3 separate regions of the Homo sapiens genome follow, and regions 2 and 3 are each linked to region 1. Evidence: fine-mapped expression QTL. A gene starts in region 1. Each other region holds a variant in brackets. All regions are shown on one strand. Distances are from middle to middle.

Evidence for each region. PIP is the estimated chance that this variant, and not a neighbour inherited with it, causes the effect.
Region 2: its variant is the best candidate, but not a certain one, in a credible set for the expression of HRCT1 in cerebellar hemisphere (GTEx, PIP 0.73).
Region 3: its variant is the best candidate, but not a certain one, in a credible set for the expression of HRCT1 in lung (TOPMed, PIP 0.86).

The regions. Positions count from the first base shown.
Region 1 is chr9:35,904,008-35,908,248 of GRCh38, reverse strand. HRCT1 (histidine rich carboxyl terminus 1) reads right to left here and starts at 2,047. Exons shown (of 1, transcript NM_001039792.2): 1 at 1,113-2,047. The coding sequence starts at 1,961. The coding sequence ends at 1,614. It overlaps LOC124902149 (a long non-coding RNA gene), which reads left to right and starts at 2,579. Exons shown (of 3, transcript XR_007061471.1): 1 at 2,579-3,881. RefSeq lists an enhancer at 2,500-3,381.
Region 2 is chr9:35,868,242-35,872,482 of GRCh38, reverse strand. OR13J1 (olfactory receptor family 13 subfamily J member 1) reads left to right here and starts at 2,082. Exons shown (of 1, transcript NM_001004487.1): 1 at 2,082-3,020. The coding sequence starts at 2,082. The coding sequence ends at 3,020. The variant C/T (reference allele first, on the strand shown) is at 2,255.
Region 3 is chr9:35,966,154-35,970,394 of GRCh38, reverse strand. No RefSeq gene overlaps it. Among named protein-coding and RNA genes, the nearest start is that of OR2S2, 10 kb to the right of the region's middle. The variant C/T (reference allele first, on the strand shown) is at 1,729.

The DNA of each region.
Region 1 (4,241 bases):
GGGCAGGGCTGCAGGGAGCAGGCTGGCAGGAATCCAGGAGGGGGATGGAGGGGGCTGGGCTAGGCAGGGCATGGGAATGGAGAAGGGGGTGGATTTGAAGGACACTGCAGAGAAAATCGACACTGCACGGCAGCCTAGGGTCAACTTTCCCAACCCAGAAACCTCAGGTGGGAGAAATCAGTGTGAATTTGCCTCCCTCTCTCTCTCACTCCCTCCTCCTGCAGCCCTCACAGAGAATCCACTGGGAAATAGAAAGGAAAGAGGACATTCTATTCCAGTGAGTCACCAGGTCCCTGAGTCTCTGGCCTGCTCTCCAGCCCCTCCCCACTGCCTCTCCTGGCCCCCAGTCCTTGTCTTCCCCCAATTCCCACCTCAGCTCACAGGCACAGGCTGAAGGCCTCAGAGCCAGGCTTCCTTCCTCGCTGTGGATCCCACTAGCTGTTCACAGAGCATATTCCAACGAGCCTCCAGGCTTCGGCACGTGGGCATCTCTGTTATCCACCCCATTGCAGAGAAGAGGAAAGTGAGACCCCAGCATTCTCCCAAGGCCATCCAACACCCTGCACCCCAGCACCACAGCCTCCACTTTAAAGAACTCCACTCGCTGCCTCCCAGCCCTCCCACCACACACAGGCACCAGCTGGGGCAGGATGGCTGAAAACGCAAGGCTTGGAGAAGAAACCCTGATCCAATTACCAAGGAAACTGGATTCAAGGCAGCCTGTGGATGGGGCTTCCTCGAGTTTCAGAGCTCAGTCTGCCCTGGACATGGGCTGAAAAAAGTACAGGGGCAGAGCCCTGGGGAGCCAGGCTCGCAGCGGCTCCAACCTTCCTCTCCCCGAGGACTGTCCCGCGGAAGGCCAGAGCCCTGCTGGTGCACACAGGACCTGCTGTGGGCAGGGTTTTGTGCAAACCCTGAATCCTCCCTCAGAGCTCAGACAGAGCCCACCCAATTCTTCCCACTCCACAACCAGCCCCTAAGAACCAGACAGAAGCCGCCTGCTCCAGCCACACGCTTCCCATCAGAGAGGGAGGTCCCAGGGCAATGAGGACACAGGCCAGGCAGCTCCCTCCCTCCCACTATGCTGCAATCAAGAGCCTCTTCACAAAAGCTTCTTAGTGGTTTTTATTTTCTTGGACTAAGGCACCGATGAATTGACTGTGCAGCCTCACACTGCCTTCTCCAAACCAAAAGGACATTCTCAGGGCCTCTCCCAGTGCCCTGCCCGCCAGAGGCCTGCAGCAGCCTGATGAGGAGGTCAAGACGGGCACTTCACATCCACTTGTGTGCTGGCTCTGCCAAGACACGCTTGTCATTTCTGGGGCTCACTGGGAGTCACTGTCACAAGACGGGCTGTCCAGCCCCGAAAGAGCACCCTTGCTCTCCACTCCCCAAACCCTTCAGCACTGCAGACCCAGTGTTCCTCCATTCTCTGCTGCCATAGTACACTGGGGCATGCCATGCAAATGCAGCTGGAGCAAGCCCCAGTCTATTGTTCCCCTCGTTCACCCCAGAGATGCATCCTTCCACATGGAAACATGGGGTCCACTTGTCCTGGGAACAGATGGGAGGGCAGGGGCAGCTGCTGTCCACAGGCACCGGCGACAGCAGCCTCAGCGAGCGTGGCGGGGATGGTGGCGGTGGGGGTGGTGGTGGTGGTGGAGGTGGTGAGGGGTGTGGCGGGGGTGGTGGTGGTGGTGGAGGCCCACATTCGGCACATGAGATACGTGGCCAGGATGACGGTGATGGTGAAAGATTCCCAGGTGGCCCCGCCGCCGGAAGGGCCAAGGCTGGGCCCGGCGGACTCGGTTTCCCCCTGCAGCTGTACGGTTCCTCTCCACGTCACAGTCCTGCCGTCCGTGGAAAAGGCAGGTGGCCAGCAGCAGCAGCAGCAGCAGGACCGCCACAGCAGCACCTGTGATCCATCCCACGAGGGCTGTGCTCCCCAGGAGGCCCAGCATCTGGGAGCCGGACAGTCCCTCTCTGCCCAGCAGCTCCTCACTCCTTTCTCCCCTTCAGCAGCCTCCGCTCAGCCCTCTCAGTCACTGAACTTTGTTGTCTCTGCTGCGGGCTGGAGAGCAGCCAGGGAATGTGGGCGAAGCCTGTTTGGACTTGCAACTGCTGGCCAAGGGTGAGGCCAGGCCGCTGTTAACTCTGAGGAGGCCTGGCAGGGAGGCCAGGTGGAGACAGAGGAGCTGTCAGGCTGGATCTGGTTGAGGGAGGAGCCCTGAGTCTAGAGGAAAGAAACCCTCCTGCTGCCTGGCTCAGTGACCTTCCCTCTCCGCACTTCAGTCTCCTCTCGTAGAGACTGTGTAGAACAGAGATGAACAACACGGGCTTTGGAGCCACGCCACTCACTTGCTCTGAGATTGTGCACAAGTTACTTAACCTCTCTGTCCTGTTTCCTCTTCTGTAAAATGGCTGATAACGGTTCCTTCCTCAGTAGGGTGTTCCGAGGACTAAAGGAGTTGAGATGCGTAAAGCAGCAACACCAGCTCCCGTCATGTTTGCAACTGATATTACTGCAATGGACTCCATGGCTCAGGAGACACTGACATCTGAGAGTCTGTGATTCCCTGTCCTGCAGCCTGCAGAGCCCTCCGGGGCTGAGTCAGGCTCTGTCAGATGAGCCATCCCGAGCTCAATGAGCTTGAGAAGCTCAGGGAGGCACCACAGGCAGATTTTGCCATCCAGGGAGGTCCTCCATCCGGCCTGTTCTGGGAGGCAGGAGGGTCTGGGTGTCCTCCCAAGCTTGCTGGGAGGCAAGAAGGAGGCCACTGAGCTCAGAGAGGGCAGGCACAGCCCAGCCTCCTGGTTCCCAGTTCAACAGTCTCAACTGGCCATAAATGGCATGCTCCTTGCTCTGTCACACCCTCCCTGCCCAGCAGTGATGAGTGCCATTCCTGCCTAGTGGAGCATTTACAGAGCGGCAGGATCTGAGCAGTACTGACTGTCCCTCCAAGCCCACCCGCCAGGCCCAAATCCCCTCTGTTCCTCCTGGGAGGCACCGTCCCATCCTGCTGACAGACCTCAGCAACAGGTGCTCACTCTCTCTCTGGGCAACCCTTTCTGCTGTGGGCATGCTGGGCTGTTCTCCAAGCTCTTCCTCACATGCAGTGGGGCTCCCCAAAGCCCCAGCTCTGTGTCTGGCTCTGCAGGGTCCCTCCAGGCTGAGTCCCCAGCCCCTCCCTCCAGGCTCATCTCCCTACCGCCTGGAGGAATGTCTGCAGACACCGCAAGGCTGGTTCTCTGAGTTCTGGCAGCACCTCCACCCTGTGATGTTGGGCAAACCCCTTGCCCTGATCCAGCCTGTCTCCTCTGCAGAACTCCCGGAGCAAGAGGTGACCTCCAGGGACCCTTCCCCCTCTGACCTCAGTCTGAGGTGAGTTCTCTTAGGGAGGCCTCAAACCCTTAATGAAAACCCTCACCAGATGAAAAGGCTAAACATTCCCTTCAACCAAACTGGGCTCAGGGGGCAGCAGGTCTAATGAATCCTGGCACTTCTTTGGCCCTTGGGGGAGCTACTTGAACTTTTAATGATGCTGGAGTAAGAACTCCTCCTGCAGACTCCTGGGGCCCTGGGAGCCCGGCTGCCTTCCCTAGGGAAGTTAAGGAGGGAAGTCTGTTGTGAGGAGGAGGAGGAGGAAGGCAAACAGGGGATTTTCGTCCTCAGAACTTCTCCAGGAAGACTCCCACCCCACACCAGCCGCTGGCGGCGGGGCAGGACCTTACAACTATGAACTTGAAGAACTTCAGTCAGCTCAAACGGCCCCTTGGAATCACCCAGACTCAGCCTTCACTGACAGATGGAGAAACTGAAGCCAGAGAAGGGAAACACTTGCCTAAGTTCTCCCAGCCTCGTGCGCTAATCTATACAGCAGGTACTCAACAGAGCACCATCCCTGCAGTGAGGGAGCCGTCCAGAGTGACAGCCTGAGATCAGCAGGGCCTTCCACAGAGACAGCGGGAAGATGAGGTGGAGATGTGAATAAACCTGGAGGGCGCAGGGGTTGGGAGTGCCCCCTCACACATACACATACACACGACATCTGTTTCCTTAGGTGCAGGTTCACTCTCCATCTGGGTAGTAGGATCCCAAAGTGAACATTTGTTTAGATGCTTTGGGCACTCCTGGGGGCAGTGAGGGACAGCCATTGAGAATACAGTCCTCCATGACTTAACCCATTTATGCCTAAGGTTGCAATTTTTTGAATTTTTGCAATCAGACCTTGGCAATGACC
Region 2 (4,241 bases), 36 kb after region 1:
ATAAGTTCATTATCTTGATTGTGGTCATGGTTTCATGACTGTATACATTAAAACTAATCAAATTATATGATTTAAATATAGTTGTACATCAACCATCCTTCAATAAAGCTGCAACAAAAAAGCATACTAAAAAGTCACAAGACCTATTTCCATGTATAGATATACATATGCAAATGGCCAGAAAAGTATCTGGATAGATATACACAAAACTAATAACAATAGTTACTTTTGGAAAAGTGGGAGAGTGGGAAGGGTGGGTGAGGCTGGGTATGGAAGAGTGAGGGAAGGGTGAGGCTGGGTATGGGAGAGTGGGAAGGGTGGGTGAGGCTGGGTATGGGAGAGTGGGGGGAGGGTGAGTCTGGGTATGGGAGAGTGGGAAGGGTGGGTGAGGCTGGGTATGGAAGAGTCAGGGGAGGGGGAGGCTGGGTATGGGAGGGTGGGGGAGGACAAGGATGGGTATGGGAGAGTGGGAGGGGTGGGTGAGGCTGGGTACGGAAGAGTGGGGGGACGGTGAGGCTGGGTATGGAAGACTTGGGGGTCCTCTCTGCCTAGGAAGGGTTTGCACTCAGCAGCCTGGGAGCACACCTGTCATCAGTGCTCCCTCACATCTGGCACCACCTGACATGTAGCAGGTCCTCAGTTACTTCTAGGTTCTGGGATGAGTAAGTGAGGGTGGAATAAAAGACGGAAATGGTCTCCTGCAAGGAAGGCACTGAGAGGAACTGTGCTCCACCCAGGCCCAGGATTTGGCATCGTGTCCCATGGGATTAATGACACCGTGCCAGATACCCTGGAACACTAAGGAGAGGTGACTCATGCTCTTTTGCTGGTGAGAGGATTGTGGCAGCACCTGGGGCACTGATATCCATCTAGAATGGTAAAAGAACAAGCATTGTTTGAAACCTAATAGAAGCATACACCTGCTCTGAGCATGGTATAGGGGTCACACTGTTGGGAGGGCTGGATTCTAGCTTCACCTCACCAGAGACCTGTTGTGTGACCTCAGCATCCCCATCTATACAATGGGAGATCCAACAAGTTGGCCTCTGGTCATGTTCCATGCTAATACCCTAGGAGTTCATGAAGTCAAAGCAGCCCTCGCTCTGGCCCACAGAACATAGGGGTTTGGAGCTGGGCCAAAAGCTCCATCAGATTTTAGCTGGGAAACCCACAGGAAGGCAGATTGTGAAGGTCCAATCCACACAGGGTAGCTAATGAAACAGGCCCTGGGCAGGGGACAGGGGAACATGCCCAGCGATAGGCTTCAAGGTCAGCAGCCCTCCAACACACAGCACGGTGTATGCTTTGTTCATGGATACTAGAGTAGGCCTGAAGAGACAGGTCAGACCACTGCAGGCCGAGGACATTCCAGACAGAAGGAATAGCAAATGCGATGGCTCAGAGGCTTCCTTAAAGCCAGGAGAATCTCCACCTGCTCAGAGACCACCTAGCCCACTAGTTCCTCAAAGTGTGGTACCTACATCAGCAGCAGAAGCATCGCCCAGACGCACCGAGTCAGAAACTGGGTTTGGGGCCCAACAATCTGTTTTAACAAACTTTCCAGGTGATTCTGGTGCATGTTAAAGTTTGAGAACTGTTGATCTAGCCTACTGTTTCCCAGACTATGCTCATAGAACACTTATCTGCAGTAGGTTAATGGGTTTTCTGTAAAAGGGGATCCATGATCAAATAAGTTTGGGGTACAGATGTTCTACATTGCTTTGCAGGAGTCATAGATCACATTAGCGTAGTAAACGCTCTGAGAAGTCCTGCAGTAAAGAGCTTTATTTTTTATTAATCCAATGTTGTCTCAAATTGATTTTTCAGATTGCTTACTAATGTTCTCATTAACATTCTCTCAGGGAATGCTGATCTAAATCAATGCTCATTTTTCACATGGATAAACTGAGGCCTAGAGAGGATAAAGGGATTGCCCGACGTCACAGACAGTGAGTGTGGCAGTGCTGGAAAAGATCCTGACAGTCCACCTCGTCCCAGAAAGGGCTCTGTGAGCTTCCCCGCACCCTGTACCCTCTCTCCTTCCATCCCAGCTGTGGACCATCTCTTCAGAACTCTGCAGCATGGAGCCGCTCAACAGAACAGAGGTGTCCGAGTTCTTTCTGAAAGGATTTTCTGGCTACCCAGCCCTGGAGCATCTGCTCTTCCCTCTGTGCTCAGCCATGTACCTGGTGACCCTCCTGGGGAACACAGCCATCATGGCGGTGAGCGTGCTAGATATCCACCTGCACACGCC[C/T]GTGTACTTCTTCCTGGGCAACCTCTCTACCCTGGACATCTGCTACACGCCCACCTTTGTGCCTCTGATGCTGGTCCACCTCCTGTCATCCCGGAAGACCATCTCCTTTGCTGTCTGTGCCATCCAGATGTGTCTGAGCCTGTCCACGGGCTCCACGGAGTGCCTGCTACTGGCCATCACGGCCTATGACCGCTACCTGGCCATCTGCCAGCCACTCAGGTACCACGTGCTCATGAGCCACCGGCTCTGCGTGCTGCTGATGGGAGCTGCCTGGGTCCTCTGCCTCCTCAAGTCGGTGACTGAGATGGTCATCTCCATGAGGCTGCCCTTCTGTGGCCACCACGTGGTCAGTCACTTCACCTGCAAGATCCTGGCAGTGCTGAAGCTGGCATGCGGCAACACGTCGGTCAGCGAAGACTTCCTGCTGGCGGGCTCCATCCTGCTGCTGCCTGTACCCCTGGCATTCATCTGCCTGTCCTACTTGCTCATCCTGGCCACCATCCTGAGGGTGCCCTCGGCCGCCAGGTGCTGCAAAGCCTTCTCCACCTGCTTGGCACACCTGGCTGTAGTGCTGCTTTTCTACGGCACCATCATCTTCATGTACTTGAAGCCCAAGAGTAAGGAAGCCCACATCTCTGATGAGGTCTTCACAGTCCTCTATGCCATGGTCACGACCATGCTGAACCCCACCATCTACAGCCTGAGGAACAAGGAGGTGAAGGAGGCCGCCAGGAAGGTGTGGGGCAGGAGTCGGGCCTCCAGGTGAGGGAGGGCGGGGCTCTGTACAGACGCAGGTCTCAGGTTAGTAGCTGAGGCCATCGTATGCCAATGCCAGTGAAGACATGGCAGGGCTGGGGCTACAGGTCTGGTATCTTCATCCCAGCAAGGCAGCACCAAGTCCCGCTGATCCTGCCACAGAACAGCCCCCAAATCACCCTCTGCTCTCAGCATCACCCTGGCCTTCACACCAGCCTCCTGGCTGGTCCCAAGACTTCAGTCCTGTTCCTCCCTCCAATCTCTCCTTCATGGGGCATCTTTTTGAAATGCACATGTGATTGCATCACTCTTCTCACTGAAATCCCTAGGTGGCTCCCCACTGTTCTCAGAACAAAGTGGAAGCTTTTCAGTGGGGCATTTGAGGCCCTCACAAGCTGGCCCTGCCTGACTGGCTCCCCAGCCTTCCTCCCCTCCCACCCCATCTCCCTCCTCACAGCCACACACACCAGCCAGTTGTGGCCCCCACATGCCCTGCACCACCCAGCTCTGTGCTCTCCTTGTTTCTCCCCACGAGGCAGCACCCCCTCCCCTATCCCCAGCACACTTCTCCATATGTAAAAGGACTGACTGCCTGACCCTTCAGGCCCAGCTCAAATGCCACCTCCACCAGGAAGCCACCCCACCTTGCTCCTCTTGCTGTGCCCCTCTGTGTTTTCAGCATTACTCCAAGAGCAGGGAGTGTCAGATTCTACTCTCTCCCAAGGTCCAGCCTTGCCCAACTCTAGGCCCTGCACAAGTTTCTTAAATAGAGATATTAACATGTCAATGTAGGGGTGACAATGGCAGAGCCTAGAGTTCTTCCCAAAACTGAGCAGAGCTGAGACGGAGTCCACAGATGACGAGAATGGCCCAGCTTCCCTGGTAGGTGACAGTAGAGGCAGCAATGAGGCCTGTATTAGTCAGGGTTCTCTTAGAGGGACAGAACTAATAGGATAGAGGAGTTTATTAAGTATTAACTTACACGATCACAAGGTTCCACAATAGGCTGAGGAGCAAGGAGAACCAGTCCGAGTCCCCAGACTGAAGAACTTGGAGTCCATTGTTCAAGGGACGGAAACATCCAGCATGGGAGAAAGATGTAGGCTCGGAGGCTAGGCCCGTCTCTCCTTTTCACGTTTTTCTGCCTGCTTTATATTCACTGGAAACTGATTAGATCATGCCCACCAGATTAGGGTGGATCTGCCTTCCCCAGCCCACTGACTCAAATGTG
Region 3 (4,241 bases), 62 kb before region 1:
CTATCAAAATATCAATGACATTCTTCACAGAAATTTTTAAAAGTCCTAAAATTCTTGTGGAACTACAAAAGGCCCTGAGTAGCCAAAGTAATCCTGAACAAAAAAACAAAGTTGGAGATATCATACTATGTGACCTCCTACTGCAGCTATTGTAGCCAAAATAGCATGGCACTGGCATAAAAAGAAATATATAGAACAATGAAACTGGCTGGGTGGGGTGGCTCACGCCTATAATCCCAGCACTTTGGGAGGCCGAGGTGGGAGGATCACCTGAGGTCAGGAGTTTGAGACCGGACTGGCCAATATGATAAAAACCTGTCTCTACTAAAAATACAATAATTAGCCAGGTATGGTGGTGGGTGCCTGTAATCCCAGCTTCTCAGGAGGCTAAGGTAGGAGAATCGCTTCAATCCAGGAGGCGGAGGTTGCAGTGAGCCGAGATCGCTCCATTGCACTCCCGGCTGGGTGACACAGTGAGACTCCATCTCATTAAAAAAAAAAGGGGGGGGGGCCAGGTGCGGTGGCTCACGCCTGTAATCCCAGCACCTTGGGAGGCCAAGGTGGGTGGATCACAAGGTCAAGAGATGGAGACCATCCTGGCCAACATGGTGAAACCCCATCTCTACTAAAAATACAAAAATTAGCTGAGCGTGGTGGTACATGCCTGTAGTCACAGCTACTTGGGAGGCTAAGGCAGGAGAATTGCTTGAATCTGGGAGGCGCAGGTTGCAGTGAGTCGAGATTGCACCACTGCACTCCAGCCTGGTGACAGAGCAAGATTCTGTCTAAAAAAAAAAACAAACAAAAAAAAACACAATGAAACAGAATACAGAACTCAGAAATAAATTCACATATTTACAGCCAACTGATTTTTGACAGAGGTGCCAGAAACATTCATTGGGGAAAGGACGGTCTCTTCAAAAAATGATGTTGGTAAAACTGGATACCTATATGCAGAATAATGAAACTAAGATACCCATCTCTTACCGTATACAAAAATAAACTAAAGATGAATTAAAGACCCAAAGCTATAAAACTACTAGAAAAAAACATAGGAAAAACACTTTTGGACACTGGTCTGGGCAAAGATTTTTATGAAGAATGCAGAGGCAACAAAACCAAATGCACAGGCAACAAAACCAAAAATAAACAAAGAGGATTATATCAAACTAAAAATCTTCTGCACAGCAAAGGAACTGATCAACACAGTGAAGAGACAATCTGCAGAATGGGAGAAAATATTTATCTGAGAAGGGATTAATATCCAGAATATACAAATAACTCAGTGGCCAAAACCAACAACAACAAAAATACAGTTGGCCCTTGAACAGCGGTTTGAACTGTACAGGTTCACCTATACATAATCTTTCTTCTACCTCTGCCACCTCTGAGACAGCAAGACCAACCCTCCCTTCTCTACTTCCCCCTCCGCCTACTCAACATGAAGACAATAAGGATGAAAACCTTTATGATGATCCACTTCTACTTAATGAATAACAAATATATTTTCTCTTCCTTATGATTCTCTTAATAGCATTTTCTTTTTCTAACTTAATTTATTGTAAGAATAAAGTATATAATACATATAACATACAAAATAAGTGTTAACTGAATGCTTATGACATTGGTAAAGCTTCCAGTCAAGAGTAGGCGATTAAGTTTTTGAGGAGTCAAAAGTTGTATATGGATTTTCAATTGTGCTGGGGGTTGAAGTCACTAACCCTCACA[C/T]TGTTCAAAGGTCAACTATAATATGATTTAAAAATTGGCAAATGTTCTGAATAGACATTTCTCAAAAGAAGACATGCAAATGACCAATGGGTATATGAAAAATGCTCAATATCAGTAATCATCAGGGAAATGCAAATCAAAATTGCAGTGAGACATCATCTCACCCCAGTTAAAATGACTATTATCAAAAGAGAAAAATAACAAATGTTAGCAAGGATGCAGAAAAAAAGAGAATGCACACATTGTTGTTGAGAATATAAATTACTATAGCTATTATGGAAAAGAGTATGAAGGTTCCTGAAAAAACTAAAAAGTCTTACCACGTGATTCAGCAATCCCACTACTGGGTATATATCCAAAGGAAAGGAAATCAGCATGTTGAGGAGCTATCTGCACGCCCGTGTTTATTGCAGCACTATTGACAATAGCAAAGATATGGAGTCAACCTAAGTGTCCATCAAGAGATGAATGAACGAAAAAAATGTGGTTTTTATACAAAATAGAATACTATTTGGCCATAAAAAAGAATAAAACCTGTTATTTGCAGCAACGTGGATGAGCCTGGAGGACATGTTAAGTGAAATAAGCCAGGCACAGAAAGATGGATACCACATGTTTTCACTAATATGTGGAAGTGAAGTAAGTTGATCTCATAGAAGTAGAAAATAGAGTGGTGATAACTAGAGGCTGGGAAGTGGGGGTGGTGGAGGAGGGAGAATTTGACTAATGCATGCAAAATTATAGCTAGAGAGAAGGAATAAGTTCTAGTGTTCTTTAGCCCTGTAAGGTAACTGTAGTTAATAATAATTTATGCTATATTTTCAAATAACCAAAAGAGGGTATTTTGAATGTTTCCAACACAAAGAAATGCTAAATGTTCAAGGTGATGGATATGCTAAAAAAAAAAAAACCTTGGTTTTATCATTGTACATTGTATACAGATATTGAAATGTCACCTTGTACCCCAGGTAACAAATAAAAATTAACTCACAATGGATCGCAGATTTAAATTTAAAGGGTAAAACTATAACTCTTCTAGCAAAAAATATAGGAGAGAAACCTTGAAACATACAGCATAGTGGAGAGTTCTTAGGCATAACAACAAAAAGCAAAATTCATGAAAAAAAGATAAATTTGGATGTCACCAAAACAACTTTCAAAATCTGACAGTATAAAACAACAATAACAATAATTCAATTAGAAAATGGGCAAAATACATGAAGAGACATCTTGTCCAAACAGGATATACAGTGGCAAATAGCAATGAAAAGATGTTCAACATCACTAACTTTTATGCAAACGCAAATTAAGACCATAAGGTATCACTTCACACCTATTGAAACAGGTAGAATAAAACATGTTCACAGCACTGAAGTTGGCAAGGATTCAGAGAAACTAGATCTCTCACACGTTATTAGTGGGAGGTGTATATTGACACACCTACTCTGGAAAACAGGCAGTTCCTAAAAAACTAAATATATGCTTACCATATAACTCAGCAATTACACTAAACTAAATAACACTCTGGCATTTATCCCAGGAAATCAACATTTATGTCTGCACAAAAAAAGCTACTATACAATTGTTCACAGTAGCTTTATTTGCAATAACCAAAAATTGGGACAACAAAAATGTCCTAAAATGGGTGAATGAATAAACAAACTTTGGTACATCCATGCCATAGAATACTACTCAGCAATAAACAGAAATTAACTACTGATACATGCAGCAACATGAATAGACCTCACAGCATTACACTGAGTGAGAAAAAGTCAGTATCAAAAGATTACAAACTATATGATTCCATTTCTATAACATTCTCAAATGACCAAATTGTGGGGATAGAAAACAAATTAGTGGCTGCCAGGGGTTACAGATGGGGAAGGGAGGGGAGTAGGGATGACTAGAAAGGGATAGCATGGGGGAGACCTTTGTGGTGATAGAATAGTACCATGTCTTGATTGCGCTAGTGGTCGTATGAATCCACACATGTGATAAAATGAAATAGAACTATACACATACACATTGCACCAATGTCAATTTCCTGGTATGCTATTGCGTATTGAATATTGTGTATTTAGGTAAGGTGTAACAAGCAGGTGAAACTAGCAGAAGGATACAAGAGACATCTTCGTACTATCTTTGCCACTTTCTATGGATCTATAATTATTTCAAAGTTTAGAGGTTTTTAAAACAGGTAACAATAATTCAATGCCTTCTCATAATAAATATTCTTAGCCAACCAGGAACAAAAGGGAACATTCTTTTGAATGTTATCTATGAAAATCTATGGCAAATATCATACTAAATGGTGAAAATAGTGAAAGTATTCTCTGTGAGATGGGAATGAGGTAAGGATGTTTGCTATTGCCACTTTTCATTCGGCATTGAACTGAAGGAACCAGCTTGTGCAGCAAAGCAAGAAAAAGAGACAAGAAGTCTAAAATTTTTGAAGCAAGAAAAACAACCATCATTATTCACAGATGATATTACTTGTGACCTATGAGAAAATC